5 linked regions of the Homo sapiens genome follow. The protein of the gene in region 1 purifies or fractionates together with the protein of each later gene. This does not show direct contact. Each region holds a gene or a part of one and is shown in the gene's direction. Other genes may lie near its edges. The genes, in order: UGT1A5, GLB1L2, LAPTM4A, PRXL2A and DIPK1A.

Evidence for each region.
Region 2: the proteins of UGT1A5 (region 1) and GLB1L2 purify together in Homo sapiens (affinity purification with mass spectrometry; one large-scale study listed by BioGRID and IntAct). This does not show direct contact.
Region 3: the proteins of UGT1A5 (region 1) and LAPTM4A purify together in Homo sapiens (affinity purification with mass spectrometry; one large-scale study listed by BioGRID and IntAct). This does not show direct contact.
Region 4: the proteins of UGT1A5 (region 1) and PRXL2A purify together in Homo sapiens (affinity purification with mass spectrometry; one large-scale study listed by BioGRID and IntAct). This does not show direct contact.
Region 5: the proteins of UGT1A5 (region 1) and DIPK1A purify together in Homo sapiens (affinity purification with mass spectrometry; one large-scale study listed by BioGRID and IntAct). This does not show direct contact.

What each region holds. Positions count from the first base shown.
Region 1 is NC_000002.12:233,711,607-233,715,715, forward strand, and holds the start of UGT1A5 (UDP-glucuronosyltransferase 1A5 precursor), read left to right. Parts: upstream 1-1,300; 5' UTR 1,301-1,385; coding exon 1,386-2,252; intron 2,253-4,109.
Region 2 is NC_000011.10:134,341,988-134,345,504, forward strand, and holds part of GLB1L2 (beta-galactosidase-1-like protein 2 isoform b precursor), read left to right. Parts: intron 1-766; coding exon 767-964; intron 965-2,399; coding exon 2,400-2,468; intron 2,469-3,046; coding exon 3,047-3,142; intron 3,143-3,280; coding exon of another isoform or gene 3,281-3,326; exon of another isoform or gene 3,327-3,517.
Region 3 is NC_000002.12:20,038,119-20,041,635, reverse strand, and holds part of LAPTM4A (lysosomal-associated transmembrane protein 4A), read left to right. Parts: intron 1-624; coding exon 625-745; intron 746-3,517. UniProt on the Homo sapiens protein: May function in the transport of nucleosides and/or nucleoside derivatives between the cytosol and the lumen of an intracellular membrane-bound compartment.
Region 4 is NC_000010.11:80,429,037-80,432,553, forward strand, and holds part of PRXL2A (peroxiredoxin-like 2A isoform 1 precursor), read left to right. Parts: intron 1-2,949; coding exon 2,950-3,063; 3' UTR 3,064-3,517. UniProt on the Homo sapiens protein: Involved in redox regulation of the cell. Acts as an antioxidant. Inhibits TNFSF11-induced NFKB1 and JUN activation and osteoclast differentiation. May affect bone resorption and help to maintain bone mass.
Region 5 is NC_000001.11:92,954,955-92,958,471, reverse strand, and holds part of DIPK1A (divergent protein kinase domain 1A), read left to right. Parts: intron 1-3,517.

The sequences.
Region 1 (4,109 bases):
CTGGTGGACAGCTCCATTCGCTGCCTGTCCCATGGGTTCTGTCCAAAGGTGGAATCTATTATCAATGTGGATTTCTAATGGGGGTAACTTCCTCCCTAAGGGAAGCCTCAGCTTCACCAGCAATGGCAGACACGGCCAGGCATGTAGACACAGAGGAAGTGAGATAGAAAGTGTGCACAGCCCAGAGAGCCTGCCCACATCATCCTGGGGCGACCAGGACAAGGAGGCGTCAGCAATCTTGCCAAGCACAAGTATGAGTGACTTTCTGGAGCAGGACGAGTCTCATGGGCGTGAGACCATTGTGAGTGCTCAGGGTCTCTCCATTAGAAAGGCACACGTTTAATTCTCCATTTTGAAATTTGAACTAGAGCCCCCACAAATTATTCTGTTCTGGAGGAACCATTCTTATCAGAACTTGGTGCTGGATTGACTTGGAAAAAAGCCTGACCATAATCTTCAGGATGAAATAAAGGCCTGGATGAATGGACACTTCAGTCTCTAAGCAGACTTGCAGAAGACTGGAGCCTTCAGCATTCAGAAGAGGAATTCAGACTGTGCAAGATCTGAGGCCAGGCTCCAGCTCCCCCGGTCCCTTGGTGAGCAGGAGCTCCCTGAACCCACCATGGGTCTTTGCTAGGGTTGTCTTGCACATGTGTGCTTTAGACAGCAGCACCTCTTCTTCCATGGTGTAGATGGAGAATCCTCAACAAAGCCTTTCCAAGAATCTGATCATCACATCTTGAGCTCAGCCTCCCTGCAGCTTTTTTTATATTGACAGCCACTTCAGAGAGAGTCCTCTTTGAGCTTTACAAGAAATATCCTGGTGTGAAAAACGACCAAAACCAGATAGCCAGCCTCCCCACTCCCTGTTTAAAGAAAGCTGGCTTAGCAATGTTGTCTGCATTTTGGATGTGCTGTGTTACCCATATGTGGGAAGAAAGAGTATTAAGAGTTAGCAAATAGGGTCACATCCAGCAGAGACCATATGGTTGGGGACTAGGGCAATGGTGACTCCTCAGACCTCAGCTGCAGCCTGATAAACGTGGTTAAGAGAGAAGTAGGAGACAGTGACATGAAATGGGGGTTCACAGCCTTGTGTTGGGAATTGAATGAGAAACAAGAGCTTGAACTTGGATGTTCCCCAGAGCGAGCGCAAGGTCAGATGAGTTTTTCAAGATAGGAGTGATCGGTCTTTCCCAGGGTGGGGCCCATAATGCAAGACAATTATAGATTAACGGGTAATAAGTAACTGGAGGAGGGCACTCTGTCTTCAATTACATGTTGATTTGCTAGGTGTCTCAGTGACAAGGTAATTAAGACGAAGGAAACAATTCTAGGAGGCACAACGTGGGGTGGACAGTCAGCTGTCGGTGGCTTCTGCTGAGATGGCCACAGGACTCCAGGTTCCCCTGCCGCAGCTGGCCACAGGACTGCTGCTTCTCCTCAGTGTCCAGCCCTGGGCTGAGAGTGGGAAGGTGCTGGTGGTGCCCACTGATGGCAGCCACTGGCTCAGCATGCGGGAGGCCTTGCGGGACCTCCATGCGAGAGGCCACCAGGTGGTGGTCCTCACCCTGGAGGTGAATATGTACATCAAAGAAGAGAACTTTTTCACCCTGACAACGTATGCCATTTCATGGACCCAGGACGAATTTGATCGCCTTTTGCTGGGTCACACTCAATCGTTCTTTGAAACAGAACATCTTCTGATGAAATTTTCTAGAAGAATGGCAATTATGAACAATATGTCTTTGATCATACATAGGTCTTGTGTGGAGCTACTGCATAATGAGGCCCTGATCAGGCACCTGCATGCTACTTCCTTTGATGTGGTTCTAACAGACCCCTTTCACCTCTGCGCGGCGGTGCTGGCTAAGTACCTGTCGATTCCTGCTGTGTTTTTCTTGAGGAACATTCCATGTGATTTAGACTTTAAGGGCACACAGTGTCCAAACCCTTCCTCCTATATTCCTAGATTACTAACGACCAATTCAGACCACATGACATTCCTGCAAAGGGTCAAGAACATGCTCTACCCTCTGGCCCTGTCCTACCTTTGCCATGCTGTTTCTGCTCCTTATGCAAGCCTTGCCTCTGAGCTTTTTCAGAGAGAGGTGTCAGTGGTGGATCTTGTCAGCCATGCATCTGTGTGGCTGTTCCGAGGGGACTTTGTGATGGATTACCCCAGGCCGATCATGCCCAACATGGTCTTCATTGGGGGCATCAACTGTGCCAACGGGAAGCCACTATCTCAGGTCTGTATTGGTGCCTTTATCCAATCAATGTTCCAGGCAAAACACTTTTTAAAAAATGTATTTACTTACAAGTGCTTCCATATCTACTTATCTTTCCAAAGATTTCATTTCTGCTTCTCATTGTTGTAATAGTCTTCAGTGAGATAAACTTTTAAAGGGTCAATGGTAGTGCAGTTCAGGGTTTCAATGGCCACTGAGAGGAAGGAGAGGCAGGGACGAGGATCTGTCAAAGGATGGGCAAGAGTGGTGTGACTCACGGAGACTGTTCGTTTGTAAAAGCACCATCTTCATGGCTGTGGATGTGCTTCAGCTGGGCAGGAGCAGGGACACTACACTGAGAACTGATCCATCCAATCTTGCTGGCAAGATTTTCAGTAGAAAGGAGGAAGGAATAGAAATTTACAATTGTTGACGTGACAATTTTTAGTGGTCCCATCTTGCAAAAGATAGAGAGGTGACCACAGGAGACCTAAGCACTCAGAGGAAGTAGAGGTTTCAAAGAAGTTGACTCAGTTCAGTGGAATTGGGCCAATGTAGGTGCAATGGATGTCTGTGATCAGAGAATGAAACACAGAGTTCAGTTTCCAGAGAGGGAGTGTTGGATTGTAATAGGAGAATGTTTCTTGTGAAGACACTACTTAAAAAAAATTCTTACTAGGTTAACTTCATGGTCTAATACCGAAGTGTCCAATAGAAATATCATGTAAACCACATACATAATTTAAACTTTTCTAGTGGGCATGTTAAACACCAGCAAAAAGAAACCACTAAAATTAATGTGAATAATGCATTTTATTTAACCAGATGTATCCCAAATATTATCCTTTCAACATGTGAACTGTTTAACGTAGCTTTTTTTGTTGTTAAGTCTTCAAAATCTAGCATATATTTGACACTTACAGTATATCTCAATTTGGAATAGCCACATTTCAAGTGCTCAATATTCATATGTAGTTAGTGACAACAATATGGTGAATGTTTATAAATATTCCATGGATAAAACTAAAATTCTATCTTTTAAATTTTTCTATCTTTTGAGATGGAGTCTTGCTCTGTCACCCAGTCTGGAGTGCAGTGGTGGGATCTTGGCTCATTGCAACCTCCACCTCCCAGGTTCAACTGATTCTCCTGCCTCAGCCTCCCAAGTAGCTGGAACTACAGGCGCATGGCACCACATCCAGCTAATTTTCTTTTTTTTTGTATTTTTTATGGAGATGGAGTTTCATCATATTGGCCAGGCTGATCTCAAATGCCTGATCTCAAGTGATTCACTCACCTCAGCCTGCCAAAGTGCTGGAATTACAGGCGCGAGCCACCACACCTAGGCAATTTTTCTATCTTTTAAAAGACCCTCTACTGAATCTGCCCAATTCTGTGAAGGATGTCTTTTAAAAAATCCCCTTACATAACAAATTCTCCTCCAGTTATATTTTGGCTCTTGAATAGGTTTTGCTTTATACATAGTGATTAGATTGGTGCATGTAGGTTTGAGGTTTGAGACTTATATTTTCTTCACAGTTTGCTGTTATCATTAAATAATAATCCTTAAAATACATTTTATCTGATATCAGTAATGTGACTCCTATGTTATTTTTTGAATTCCCCATCTCTTTTAATTTGAAAATGATTTGTGTGCAAGTGGGTAGCTCACACCTGTAATTTCAGCCCTTTGGGAGACCGAGGGAGGAGGATTGCTTGAGCCCAGGAGTCTGAGAGCAGCCTGGGCAACATGCTGAGACTCCATCTCTACAAAAAATTAAAAAATTATCCAGGTGTGATGGTGCACACCTGTGGTCCCAGCTACTCGGGAGGCTGAGGCAGGAGGATCACTTGATCCCAGGAGGTGGAGGCTGCAGT
Region 2 (3,517 bases), on another chromosome or scaffold:
CCACGCCCTTGTTTCATGCCTCCAGCTTTCCTGACCTTCCTGACTTGAAATGTGGGTCTCCCCAGCTTCTCGCACGGCTTTCGGGAGACAGGGTGGGAAGGAGACCCACCCGGCAGCACCGAGTCACTGGGACCCGGCTGAGGGGCTCCCTGGGGCCGACCCCGAGAGATGCCGAGAGGCGCTTTCTCGCGGACCGGAGCCTTCGACGGCCTTCCCGTGGGGGACTCTGCTCTAGCTGGGTCACCTCGTGGGGGGTGCGCGGTCTTCAGAAAATAATGAAGACCTGGAATCGGGTGGATGGGTGGACGCCGCCAACGCAGACCCTCTTTCCAGGTCTCTGCTCCTGCGGTCGGGCGGCTGCGACCGTGCCGGGGCTCGGAGGTACCGTGTGAAGTCGCTGTCGCGCGTGGCCGCGGGGCTGGCCACGGTGAAGCCCGTGCGGCGCCCGCCCCGCCCCGCCCCGGCCCCAGCAGCAGCCTCTCCCGTGGCGTGACGGCTGCCGTCTCTCCTTTCAGCCCGCCGGCCTCCATGCCGAGTGCTGTGCTTGCTGCCGGCTGCAGCCTCGGCCTGCCCTTCCCCTGCCGCGGGGCCCCGTGCTGAAGAAAGACCCCTTCCCAGGTCTGGCTGAGGCGGAGGGGAGCTTTTCCCAGCCACCTGGACGCAGGCGCCCTCGAGAGAGAAATGCCGAGGACCTGCGAAGGGGCGAGGAAGCCGATCTCTCTGCGGCCCGGAGCCTCCAGGCTCCAGAATGTCTTTGTCTTTCCAGGCTGGACTGGAGCACCCTGGTCCCTCTGCGGCTCCGCCATCGACAGCTGGGGCTGCAGGCCAAGGGCTGGAACTTCATGCTGGAGGATTCCACCTTCTGGATCTTCGGGGGCTCCATCCACTATTTCCGTGTGCCCAGGGAGTACTGGAGGGACCGCCTGCTGAAGATGAAGGCCTGTGGCTTGAACACCCTCACCACGTAGGTGCTGCCCCTGTCCCCCCGGAGCCTGGTTCCTAAGCAGGGCGCCTGGTGTCTGCATGCGAAAAAATATAAGAGGAACCGGCCCAGGTCCTCTGCCCAGGGCGAGAGAGCCAGGGTCTCCCTCCTCCTCCCCACCACAGAGCTCCTGACTCATGGGCGCCAAGGGACATGAAATGGATGTGAGGTCTAGAGGAACCGCAGTAGCAATGTCGCACAAAAGAGTATAGGGAAGGCGGTGAGTGCAGATTGAGGAGGTGATTCAGTGCTAGCGAATCTTTTTGTGTTACAAGCAGTCTTCCCACTTCCAGTTTATACAGCCAGTGAACGGAGTCTTCTTCAGGAGAGCTGCCTGAGAGGCTCTCTGGCCCCAGTTTTCAGCACTCCTCTTGGGCAGTGGTCTTAGAATGCTGTGGTTGCCATCCCAGCCTCTGCTGTGATGATTGGCACATGGTAGGCACGCACTAAAATGTCGAACTTGCAAATCATTTATAAAGTGTGCTCAGTTGTGAATAACCTGGATCTTTTCATGGGTTTTCCCCCCAAATTGCCAACTGATACTTGACGCTAAGTCTATGAAATAAAGGGGGTGATCAGGCTGGATTATTCCATGTTTAGGCAAAAATATGTGATTACAAATCAAGGAGATGGCTTTTCATGGGTGGTTTATGAACTGATTTTGAAGACAGTTCCTTAAAGAGTTACAGAAACCTGCCGAGCCTTGACAACTTCCCCGAAAGGACTCCTGAAGGCTGTGGGAGTGCTGCAGGCTCAGCACTCTGACTCGCAGAAGCAGCACCGACGACACTTGCTGAAAGGCAGAGCTCGTGTGTCTGGGTTGGAAGCCAGGCAGGCTCTCCTCCTTCATCTGAGAATATTCTTTGTAGTGGGCAGAGGCTCTGCGAAAGCCAGCGATGGGGTGGGGCCGGGAGAAGAGCAGCTGCCATCACTGTGTCATCCATGAGTCGTCCCTTCCGCCTCTCGAGTTGAGCCTGTCCATGAGCCTGCTCCATCCCTTGTCCTGTCTTTCGAGTTGGAAGCTTCATTCTGTTGCCCGTTTTGGAATTCCGGGGCTTCAGTAAATATAGGATGATCACCGAGCTTTCCCCTTACTCCTTGTAGCTGTTTTTTTGATAAAGTTACATTTTCTTCTCCAATGGGGCGTGGGCATGGTAAGCTAACTGGGGTCAGAGCGCCTGACCTTTTACTCAGCCGGTCTTATGCTTCATCCAAATCTTGTTGATGCAGAGGGAAGAGGGCTTGCCCTCGATTCTGGTCCCTAGATCAGTTCACTTAGTTCTTGGTTCCAGTCCTAAAATCATGAAGAAACATATCTTTAGCCATCATATTGGATTTTTGGGCTAAAGAAGGTAATGTGAGAGGTGAAATGGAATGAATGACATGCTCTAGCCTATAATTATCATTTCTGTTGCAGCTATGTTCCGTGGAACCTGCATGAGCCAGAAAGAGGCAAATTTGACTTCTCTGGGAACCTGGACCTGGAGTATGTGGTGTTGCTGCTTCTGTGAACTGGCCAGGGGCAGGGCACAGAGGTGGCTACTGGGGTGGATTAGCAACCAAAGAGAACCAGGGAGGGACGTGGGTCTGGAGTCCTGTTCTAGGACTGTGAGAGGCCCTGCACCCAGGACCCAGACGCTCCCCAGTCGTGACCTGTCACCCAGAGGGACTGGGCCTGCAGCCTCCGGGCCCCACCTCTCCACTGCAGCCCAGAGGGGCAGAAGACCCTGGGAGCCGCCCGACTCTGCATGGGGTCCGGCCGCTGGGCTGGGGCAGGGCGGCCCCTCTAGGCTAGCAAGGCTATGGGGTCAGGTTCACTGTTGAGACCACTGAGCCCTGGGTGTCACCCTTCCTCCTCAGGCCCCCGATGGGGCTGTGCAGAGGCTCTGAGGCTGGGAGCAGCTCAGGCCACCGACCTGGTGTGGGAGTCCCCGCGCTTTGGGGGTGGGGCCGAGCCGTCCCTTCGCCCCACCAGGCAGCTCCTCCACCCTGTGATGCGCGTGGCCCCCACCCGGCCTCATCCTGGGCCGTCGTGGGAGGGGCTGACGATGTGGACCTCCCTAGGGCCTTCGTCCTGATGGCCGCAGAGATCGGGCTGTGGGTGATTCTGCGTCCAGGCCCCTACATCTGCAGTGAGATGGACCTCGGGGGCTTGCCCAGGTAAGCGGGGTTGTGAAGGGTCCTGTGTGCTGTGGCAAAAAGCTCACAGACATAGGTCTGGTTTGTTTCTGTGTTCCAGTTCCCATTCTGTACTGAATTGTGTTCCAGTTCCCATTCTGTACTGAATTTCCTTTTCAGGAAAAGCAGCACCCAGAGGGGATCGCTTTCAGTGATGCTGCAGTGAGTGCCCTCACGTAGCCATGCATGGGCTGCTTGTGTGACAGGCAGCAGCAGGGCTGGCCCTCCTGGCATCTCATGCTTCAGGACTCTGCTGTGGAGCTGTGAGTCCTGGCAGGTCATTCACCTGCGTGTCTGCAGTATGGGAAAAATCCGACCTTCCCTGTCTGTTTCTTTTTTTTGAGACAGAGTCTTGCT
Region 3 (3,517 bases), about 210 Mb from region 1:
TGAGCCTAGGAAGGGGAGGCTTCAGTGAGCTGAGATTGCACCACTGCACTCCACCCTGGGCAATAGAGTGAGACTCCATATCACACACACGCACACATACACATACACACACACACACAAAAGTAAGACTAGTAGATAAGTGACTTTCAGTATCTTGGTAAGTCTCTTAAGCATTTGAGTCTAGCTCTAGAGGAAATAGTGAGTTCTCTGTCACCTGATGAGAGATGCTGTGGAGGGGTTTCGGGCATCTGATGAATAAATATAACAGATGAACAGTAACTTCTTCAAATCCAGAAATTCTGAGATTGGTATATGAATAAATAGGTAGCTTCGAACATGAACCATTTGTAATGATTCTTTAGTTTTAATTTTTTTCTGGTGTATTGGTTAAGCATCTTATCTCTCAAATGGTTAATATTACTTATACTTTATAAAATATTTATTTTTAAATTATTCTCATAGTGGTAATTGCGTATTGTTTTATCTCACAGGTAGTCTCCCACTATTTTATATCTTTGTTACTTCAAGTAAGACAATCTTAAATATGAGAGGACATCTAGAGATTGTGCTAAGATTGCGTCGTGATGGTAATTAATGTAACTGATAGAATGTTATCTTTTCCAGGTAGTAAACCTATTGATGGCAATTTTGCTGACTGTGGAAGTGACTCATCCAAACTCCATGCCAGCTGTCAACATTCAGTATGAAGTCATCGGTAATTACTATTCGTCTGAGAGAATGGCTGGTATGTGTTTAATAGAAAAACAAAAAAATCTCCCCTGCTAATTTTTATATACAGTCCTGTGTTGTTTAATGATGGGGACACATTCTGAGAAATGTCACTGGGTGATATTGTTGTGTGAACATCATAGGGTGTACTTACACAAACCTAGATAGCGTAGCCTACTATACACCTAGGCGATGTGGTAGAGACTCCTAGGCTAAAACCTGTACAGCAGGTTACTGTACCGAATACTGTAGGCAGTTATCATACAGTGGCAAATAGGTGTGTATCTAAAGATGGAAAAATATAGTAATACTGTAAATACACTATTACAGTGTTATGGAACCCTCATGATATATGCAGTCCATTGTTGACCAAAATGTTGTTGGCCCATGTCTGTCTGTCTCCACACACACTGGTTATTTAGGGGATTGATTAGATTATGCTTAAGTTACATTTCAGAAAGTTAAAATGGTTACATAATAAGGGTAACAAGTTAAATTATATTTAAGTCATTCTTGCTGAGGCAGGAAAGTATTTTGATGGGTTTTTCAGAGAGATTCAGTGAGGATTACAATAGAGCATTTCTAGCCAGAAAATGTAATGGACTATTAAGTTTTTGAGAAATGTGTAAAATGTACCTTGAAATCAAAATAAGCATGCAGGCTTCATAAGACTTTTTTTTTAATGTAGCTACTAGTAGAAAGGAGAAGTTGCTATGGTTACAATATATGTGTCCCTCCAAAATTCACATGCTGGAGCTTAACCTCCAAGGTGATGATATTAAGAGGTAGGACCCTTGGGTGGTGATTAGGCCATGAGGGCTCTACCCTTATGAATGGGATAAATGCCTTTCTTTTTTTTTGAGACAGAGTTTTGCGCTTGTTGCCCAGGCTGGAGTGCAGTGGTGCGATCTCGGCTCAGGGCAACCTCTGCCTCCTGGGTTCAAGCGATTCTCCTGCCTCAGCCTCCTGAGTAGCTGGGATTACAGGCACACACCACCACACCCGGCTAATTTTTTGTATTTTTAGAGTTACTCCATGTTGGTCAGGTTGGTCTCGAACTCCCGACCTTAGGTGATCCACCCGCCTCAGCCTCCCAAAGTGCTGGGATTACAGGCGTGCCACAGCGCCCAGCCAGCGCCCTTCATTTTTAAAATCACATTTATATTATTTATTTGTTTAAAAAAAGTTTTTTAGAGAAAAGGTCTTACTTTGTTGTCCCAACTGGAGTGCAGTGGTACAGTAATAGCTCACTGTAACCCAGAATTCCTGAGCTCAAGTGATCCTCCCACCTCAGCTGCCTGAGTAGCTAAATTTTTGTGGAGATCGGGTCTCCCTGTCTTTACCAGGCTGGTCTTGAGCTCCCGGCTTCAAGGGACCCTCCCACTTCAGCCTCCCAAAGTGCTGAGATTACAGGCATGAGCCACTGTGCCCAGCCCATAGCAGACTCTTGAAAGCCGATTATTTGAATTACAAATTTTGCTTTCAAGTTTGATAATACCTGTTTAATTTCATATTTTGTTTTTACCTGAATTCTTCTAAGTGGAAGTTTGCATGTTGTAGCAGGGAAGTCCTTTAAATTCTTAACATTTATCAATCCTGTATCCTCTAAGAAAAAAGTAAAGAGGACTATTCCTAGTTTAGTGCCAAATATTGATGAGGTTTTACTGCCCAGTGATAAATTATATATACATGCTGTGCATGGTGGCTCATGCCTGTAATCCCATCACTTTGGGAGGCCGAGGCAGGTGAATCACTTGAGGTCAGGAGTTTGAGACTAGCCTGGCTAACATGGTGAAATCCTGTCTCTATTAAAAATACAAAAATTAGCTGGGCTTGGTGGCGCAGGCCTGCAATCCTAGCTACTCTGGAGGCTGAGGCAAAAGAATCTCATGAACCTGGGAGGCAGAGGTTGCAGTGAGCTGAGATTGTGCCACTGCACTCCAGCCTGGGTGACAGTGAGATTGTCTCAAAGAAAAAAAAAAAGTTGTATATACATTTACCCAATAGGGAATATTCAGCAGTTGTTCTAGTCATTCATCATTATTAGTGCCCTCAGTATTTTTTTTCTTTTTTCATTTTTAAAACATCTTTTGTGCATACAGGGTCTTGCTATATTGCCCAGGTTGGTCTTGAACTCCTGGCCTCAAGTAATTTTCCCACCTTAGTCTCTCAGAGTACTGAGATTACAGGTGTGGGTTGCCGTGCCCATCCCCCCCAGTTTCTTAATCTCTGCCCAGACGGATCACCTGATGTTGGGAGTTTAGACCAGCCTGGCCAACATGGTGAAACCTCGTCTCTACTAGAAATACAGAAATTAGCTGGATGTGGTGGTGCTTGCCTATAATTCCAGCTACTTGGGAGGCTGAGGCAAGAGAATCACATGAACCTGGGAGGTTGAGGTTGCAGTGAGCCGAGATCGCGCCACTGCACTCTAGCCTGGGCGACAGAGCAAGACTCTGTCTCAGGAAAAGAAAGAAAAAACTGTCCAGAGTCACAGAATCAACTACAGATTTGTGCTAAGAAATTCAGTAAGTCAGGCACGGTTTAGAATTGCTTGAGATTACTTGGCTGTTTTGTGAAAAAATTAGTGAACATGGATTAATGGAGAGTTGGAACAACCTGAGGAAGAGTTGAGAAACGAAGAAGAAAGTAGTGTGTGTTAACATAGATACCAGGGTGCAGGAAGCAATGAATTTTGGTGTTTGGGAGGTTGGGTGGGGAAGTGAGGTTAATGGCGAAATTTGAATTTCAGGTTATATTTATCTAGAGCAAAGGGTAATGTATGTAG
Region 4 (3,517 bases), on another chromosome or scaffold:
GACTACAGGCACCCACCACCACACCCAGCTAATTTTTTTGTATTTTCAGTAGAGACAGGGTTTCTACTCATGATCTGCCCGCCTCAGCCTCCCAAAGTGCTGGGATTACAAGCTCACGCCTGGCCTGAGCTTTATTTCTTATGTCTTCCTTTTACAGCTTGGTAACTGATTCGCTTGACTATATTAGAATTTAGCATAAAATGGTGTCTGATTTAACATAAACCTATTTGCTAATTTTCTGGTAAATCTGTCAAAGTGTCTTAGTAATAATGGTTTCCAATGAGTGCCTGTCTTGTTCTACGTGCTCAAGTACATGGTCTCATGTCTTCCTCACAACCAGTCTAGGATGTTAGGCATTTTTATTCCCATCCACATATACAGCAGTTGGCCTAGAGATTTAAAATAACTCAGCCAAAGACACAGCTAAGTGGTACAATGGAAATGAAACTTAGGAACTCAAATCTGTCAAACTCCAGAGACCCTTCCCGGCCCGGCCCTGCCCTGCCCCGCCCCGCCCCTAGCCTCTCCTGCCCTGCCCTGCCCCTAGCCTCTCCTGCCCTGCCCTGCCCTGCCCTGCCCCTAGCCTCTCCTGCCCTGCCCTGCCCCTAGCCTCTCCTGCCCTTCCCTGCCCCTAGCCTCTCCTGCCCTGCCCTGCCCCTAGCCTCTCCTTGGAGGTGTTTCCCAGCGACCACTTCCTGATGTCCTTATGCTTGGGCAGGCCACTTCCCCAGTGGATTGCCCATCCTCTTCCCACTCTGACAACGTGGGGTTCCTTCCCCTACCCGCCTCTGCCTTCTCATGGCCTCTAGGGCAGGGCTTGGCATGCCTGCCAGCCTTTTCTTGCCTGGCGATGACTCATCTGGTGCTCATGGGCCCTACTGGCATGTTTCTGATGTTGCTAGGTGTGTTTGACTTTTGTTCGTATTCCCTGGAGCCCCTGGCCTTCATTCTCCTAGGCGGAAGGTTAACTGGCTAGCTGAACTTCAGGACTTACTTCAGTTCTTGTTGGGTGTAGAGTTTTTGTAGTCTAAAATTGGGGTGGTGGGGATTTCCTTTTTTTTTTTTTTTTTTTTTTTTTCTGGAGACAGAGGTTCACTCTTGTTGCCCAGGCTGGAGTGCAATGGCACGATCTCAGCTCACTGCAACCTCCACCCCCCCGGGTTCAAGCGATTCTCCTGCCTCAGCCTCCCGAGTAGCTGGGATTACAGGTACCCGCTGCCATGCCCAGCTAATTTTTGTATTTTTAGTAGAGGCAGGGTGTCACCATGTTGGCCAGACTGGTCTCAAACTCCTGACCTCAAGTGATCTATCCACATTGGTCTCCCAAAGTGCTGGGATTACAGGCGTGAGCCGCCGCACCCTGCCTGAATTTTCTTTTTAATAATAATCTTGAAAGCATTCTTAAAGAAGAAGCAGCTGGGCAACATAGCAAAACCCCATCTCTATAAAGAATAAAAAAGTTTAGCCGGCGTGGTGACATGCACCTGTAGTCCTGGCTACTTGGGAGGCTGAAGCAGGAGGATTTCTTGAGCACAGGAGTTCAAGGCTGCAGTAAGCTATGATCGCACCACTGAACTACAGCCTGGGAAACAGAGCAAGACCCTGTCTGTAAATAAATAAATAAAAAGTGTGTTTGCACTACAGAAAATTTAAAAACAGCAGAACATAGAAGGTGGGGAAAACCATCCTATGAGCTCAGCCACCGTGGAAAATCCACTGGAACAAAGCTGAATGGCCTTTCCTTTTGTTTTGCTTTGCTCTAGAAAATTGTACTAGATGTTCTTTTTTCATTTAACAGTATATTGTGAACATTTTCCTATGTCACTATATATTGTTAGTTTTTTGTTCGTGTTTTTGTTTGTTTGTTTGTTTAGATGGAGTCTTGCTCTGTCGCCCAGGCTGGAGTGCAGTGGCGCGATCTCGGCTCACTGCAACCTCCGCCTCCCAGCCTCCCAGGTTCAAGGGATTATCCTGTTTCAGCCTCCTGAATAGCTGGGACTAAAGGCTTGAGCTACCGTACCTGGCTAATTTTTGTATTTTTAGTAGAGACCGAGTTTCACCGTGTTGGCCAGGCTGGTCTTGAACTCCTGACCTCAAGTGATCCGCCCACCTCAGCCTCCTAAAGTGCTGGGAGTACAGGTGTGAGCCACAGCACGCAGCCTATTAGTATTTTTAATGTCTGTATTATGGTTTACTGAGCAAGTAAATATAATTTTCTGATCTGCTTGCCCATAATCTCTGCAGTGTGGTGGGCCTTTTTTTTTTTTTTAAGTCTTTATAAATAATGACACAGTGTATTTACAGATTTTCTTTTTAAGATGAGTTTCCAGATGTAATGAATCAAAGAACTCTAACAAGGATTCCTTGATGCTGATCTCAAACATGTTATTTTGTCTTTTTTTTACTACCTCCAACTTTAGATAACTTTGGGGTATCTTGTGTCTTAGTGCATTTTTTTTCACTGTATGAGAAGAAAGTGGCTTCCAGTTTCTTAGAAGACTAAAGAAAAATGAGGGTCTCTCTTTTAGATGGTCATTCAGTGCCTTCCAAAGTCTAACCTCTGAGCTCCACTTCCACACCTTTGGGCCTTTCTGTGTTAGCTTCATTTTTTTCTCTTCACCTGGTATGTTCTTTTACCTGCATCTCTACTTGTAGACATCCTGGTTACCCTCCGTGCCTCTGTGAGGCCTTCCCTGATTGCCCTTGTCATGCTTTATCACTTCTGACTTCCTGCTTCTAGAGCTGCTGGTACAGGCCAGATGGATGTGGCCTTCTCCGGTCTATCTTCCCTCAAAGACTGAACTCCTTGAGGGCAGGAGCCAGGCCATATTTGGATCTGTGTCCTTTGCTATTCAAGCAAAAGGCTTGACAGACAGCTGGTCCTCGATGCCTGTCTCATGAACGAACGATTTAGGATGAGGACTGACATTATCTCTTGTTTCCTTTTAGGGCATTCTTCTTGAGCACCGAGAAAAAGAATTTGGAGACAAAGTAAACCTACTTTCTGTTCTGGAAGCTGCTAAGATGATCAAACCACAGACTTTGGCCTCAGAGAAAAAATGATTGTGTGAAACTGCCCAGCTCAGGGATAACCAGGGACATTCACCTGTGTTCATGGGATGTATTGTTTCCACTCGTGTCCCTAAGGAGTGAGAAACCCATTTATACTCTACTCTCAGTATGGATTATTAATGTATTTTAATATTCTGTTTAGGCCCACTAAGGCAAAATAGCCCCAAAACAAGACTGACAAAAATCTGAAAAACTAATGAGGATTATTAAGCTAAAACCTGGGAAATAGGAGGCTTAAAATTGACTGCCAGGCTGGGTGCAGTGGCTCACACCTGTAATCCCAGCACTTTGGGAGGCCAAGGTGAGCAAGTCACTTGAGGTCGGGAGTTCGAGACCAGCCTGAGCAACATGGCGAAACCCCGTCTCTACTAAAAATACAAAAATCACCCGGGTGTGGTGGCAGGCACCTGTAGTCCCAGCTACCCGGGAGGCTGAGGCAGGAGAA
Region 5 (3,517 bases), on another chromosome or scaffold:
GAAAGGTTGCAGAGACCAGCTTTGTATACTTGCAGTTATGCTGTTTGTCTTTAACTGGATGGGGTCAAAGACCAGTTATGTCCTGAGGTGTTCAGGCCTTAGGAGCTGTGAGTTCCCTTTTTTCTGCAGTGTACAGGAGAAAACTTTTAAGCAGTCAGCTTACTTGTAAAGGAACTTCATTCTCAGTATTTTTATTAATCCAGATATCACTGTGGCATTTGGTAACGCTTTTGGAAAACTGTGGCATTACACAATTAATGATATATTTTCAGCCATAATAGACATTCATGAGCTAATGCAGGCACCTATTCACTGTTTATAGCTTTGCTTATATAGCAGAAGAGATTCTACTGCCTGTGAAGAAAAGAACTTGTGTGGTATATGCATACAACAGAATATTATTCAGCAATAAAGTGAAATGAAGTTCTGATACACACTGTAACATGGATGAACCTTAAAAACATTAAATATATGAAACTAGTCACAAAAGATCACGTATTATTTCATTCATATGAGATGTCCAGAATGGGCAAATCTATAAAGACAAAAAGATAGATTAGTGGTTGCCTGGGGGGAAATGGGGAGTAACTACTGATGGATATGAAGTGTTCTTGAGGGGGACAGAAATGTTCTAAAATTGATAGTGGTGATGGTTGCCCAAGTATGTGAATATACTAAAACCTACTGAACGTTATGCTTTAAATGAATAAATTGTAGGATATGTGAATTATTAGTATATCTCCATAAAACAGTTGAAAAATAAATGAACCGAGTTTATCTCATGAAAGTCGTCCTTCTTCTCTCTGCCTTTTGCTGCAGATTCCACCAAGGTCAGCTTTTTGGTGCAGGGAGCACTTCTTCCAGGGGAGCTGGGCAGGCACACTGTTAGTCTGTGCAGCCTCTCTGTGGGCTAGAAGGACTTGTGACCTGCCTGGAAGGGCCAACAGACGTTTACCTGAGCAACAAGCTTCTCATGGCAAGGCATCTTGCCCAGAGCAAGCAAGCTAATTTACAGTTCCATGTTTTCCAGATATTTTGTTGAAACATTACTTGGGAAATAACACTTCCTGGACTGGCTAAATGATGCAGCACATTGAACAGAGTAGAATCCTGCCTCTGAGATCAGAAACTGTGGATGTATTAACTGCTTAAACCATTTTTAGGCAGTATTTTCTTCCACGTGCCATTATGGTGCATACTACTTGTGGCCTGCTTGGGTGTGATAACCCAGAATGACACCTGCATTTGTCTTTTTTTAGCAGTGTGTTTTCTACAAACTAAGATCTACTTTGTTTAGGGTTTACTCATAGTCTGAGTGAAGCTGATAACACAGCAACCCTATAATTTGTTGGTTTTGGTTTAAAATACCTTCTTCCTTCTCACCATCGTTAAGTCCTGAAAGAATGAAAGTCAAGACAATTCAGCATAATTCTCTGTACTTAGATTATACACATTTTCCATTCCAATCATTCTGCCTATGTGTTCTGTTGCATATGAAAAGTTGGTGCAGTTCTAATGGAATTTGAAGTCCCATGTACTTGGGTCCTTTGAAGGTTTTCAAGCCGTTTTGCTTGTAAGGGGCTTAAAGTTTTAGAAGTATCCTCTTGAAAATGACTGCCCTAGCAATTTCAGTATGTGTTCAGTAGGGTTGTTATGAGTGAATGGGTAGATGGCATGTTCTAGCTAGGGTGTTTGCACTTGTTTAACATTTCTGATACCTGGCACTTTGGCTCGTATTAGTACAATTTTTCAAACATGACTGCTGTGGATGGTTTGGTTCCTTATGAGTTAATGTGGATATTTTGTGAGATTTAGTGCCAGACAGGGTTACTGATACAGATTAATTGGTAATAGTAGTAATGTTGCCAAATACTGTAGTAAAAATGGGCTTTTTGCCCATTTTCAGTCTCCAGGATTATTTTAAATCTAAGGATAATTAGAGCCTATGGTTGTTCTCTATCCTCCAAAGACAATAGAGGGAGAAGATCTGTAGTTTGTATAGTTCTCATTAACTTTATTAGACCTGCTGTTCAGAGATTAGCTTTTGCCTTTGCCTGAAATTTAATCTCCAGAACTATGATTAGCTTTCTGAGACTGGTATGTGTACAGAGAGCCACTTGATATTACCATTAGTTGCTTTTGAACCTTTGTTAGAAGCTCAAAGAAATGGTGAATTCTCAGGCAGATTGCATCCTTACCACATTTCTTTCAAACTGGACCATACAGTAAAAGTGTTTCTTCACTGTAGTCTTCTCAGTGCCTCAGATTTTTTTTTTAAGTTAAAGATTTAAAAGTTTTTAGAGCCATTTTAAGTTCACAGCAAAATTGAGAGGAATGCAGAGAGATTTCCCATATACCCCTTGTCCTGACACATGAATAGCCTCCCTCCTTTTCTTTTCTTTTTTTTCCCCTTTTCTTCTTTTCTTTTCTCTTCTTGATACAGGATCTCCCTCTGTCACCCAGGCTGGAGTTCAGTGACACAATCATGGCTCACTGCAGCCTCTACCTCCCATACTCAAGTGATCCTACTGCTTCAGCCTCCTGAGTAGCTACAGGCACATCCCACCAAGTCCAGCTAATTTAAATATTTTTTTAAGAGACAGTGGTCCCACTGCATTGCCCAGGCTGGTCTTGAATTCTTGGGCTCAAGTGATCCTCCTGCCTTGGCCTCCCAAAGTGCTGGAATTATAGGAATTAACCACTGTGCCTGGCCCCTCCCCTATTTTCATTTTTTTTTCTTTTTTCTTTCTTTTCTTTTCTTTTTTTTTTTTTTTGAGACAGAGTCTCACTCTGTCACCCAGGCTGTAGTGCAGTGGTGCGATCTCAGCTCACTGCAAGCTTTGCCTCCCAGGTTCATGCCATTCTCCTGCCTCAGCCTCCCAAGTAGCTGGGACTACAGGTGCCCGCCACCACTCCTGGCTAATTTTTTGTGTTTTTAGCAGAGACGGGGCTTCACTGTGTTAGCCAGGATGGTCTCGATCTCCTGACCTCGTGATCTGCCTGCCTTGGCCTCCCAAAGTGCTGGGATTACAGGCGTGAGCCACCGTGCCCAGCCCCCTCCCCTATATTTAACATCCCCCACATAATGGTACATGTTTTACAGTTAATGAACTTACACTGACGTATTATCACCCAAAGTCCATAGTTTTACATTAGAGTTCATTCTTTGTGTTGTACATTCAGTGTGTTTGGATAAATGCATAATGACATGTATCCATCATTATTGTATAGAGTGTAGTTTCACTGCCTTAAAAATCTGTGCTCTGCTTATTTATCCTTCTGTCCCCACTGAGCCCCCAAAAGCCACTGGTCTTTATTGTCTCCATAGTTTTGCCTTTTTCTAAAATGTCATCTAGTTGGAATCACGTAGTATTTTAGGTAGCCTTTTCAAATAGGCTTCTTTCACTTAGTAATATGCATTTACGTCTCCTCTATGGCTTTTCATGGCTTAATAGCTCATTTCTTTTTAACGCTGAATAATATTTCGTTGTCTGGGTGTACCACAGTTTATCCATTC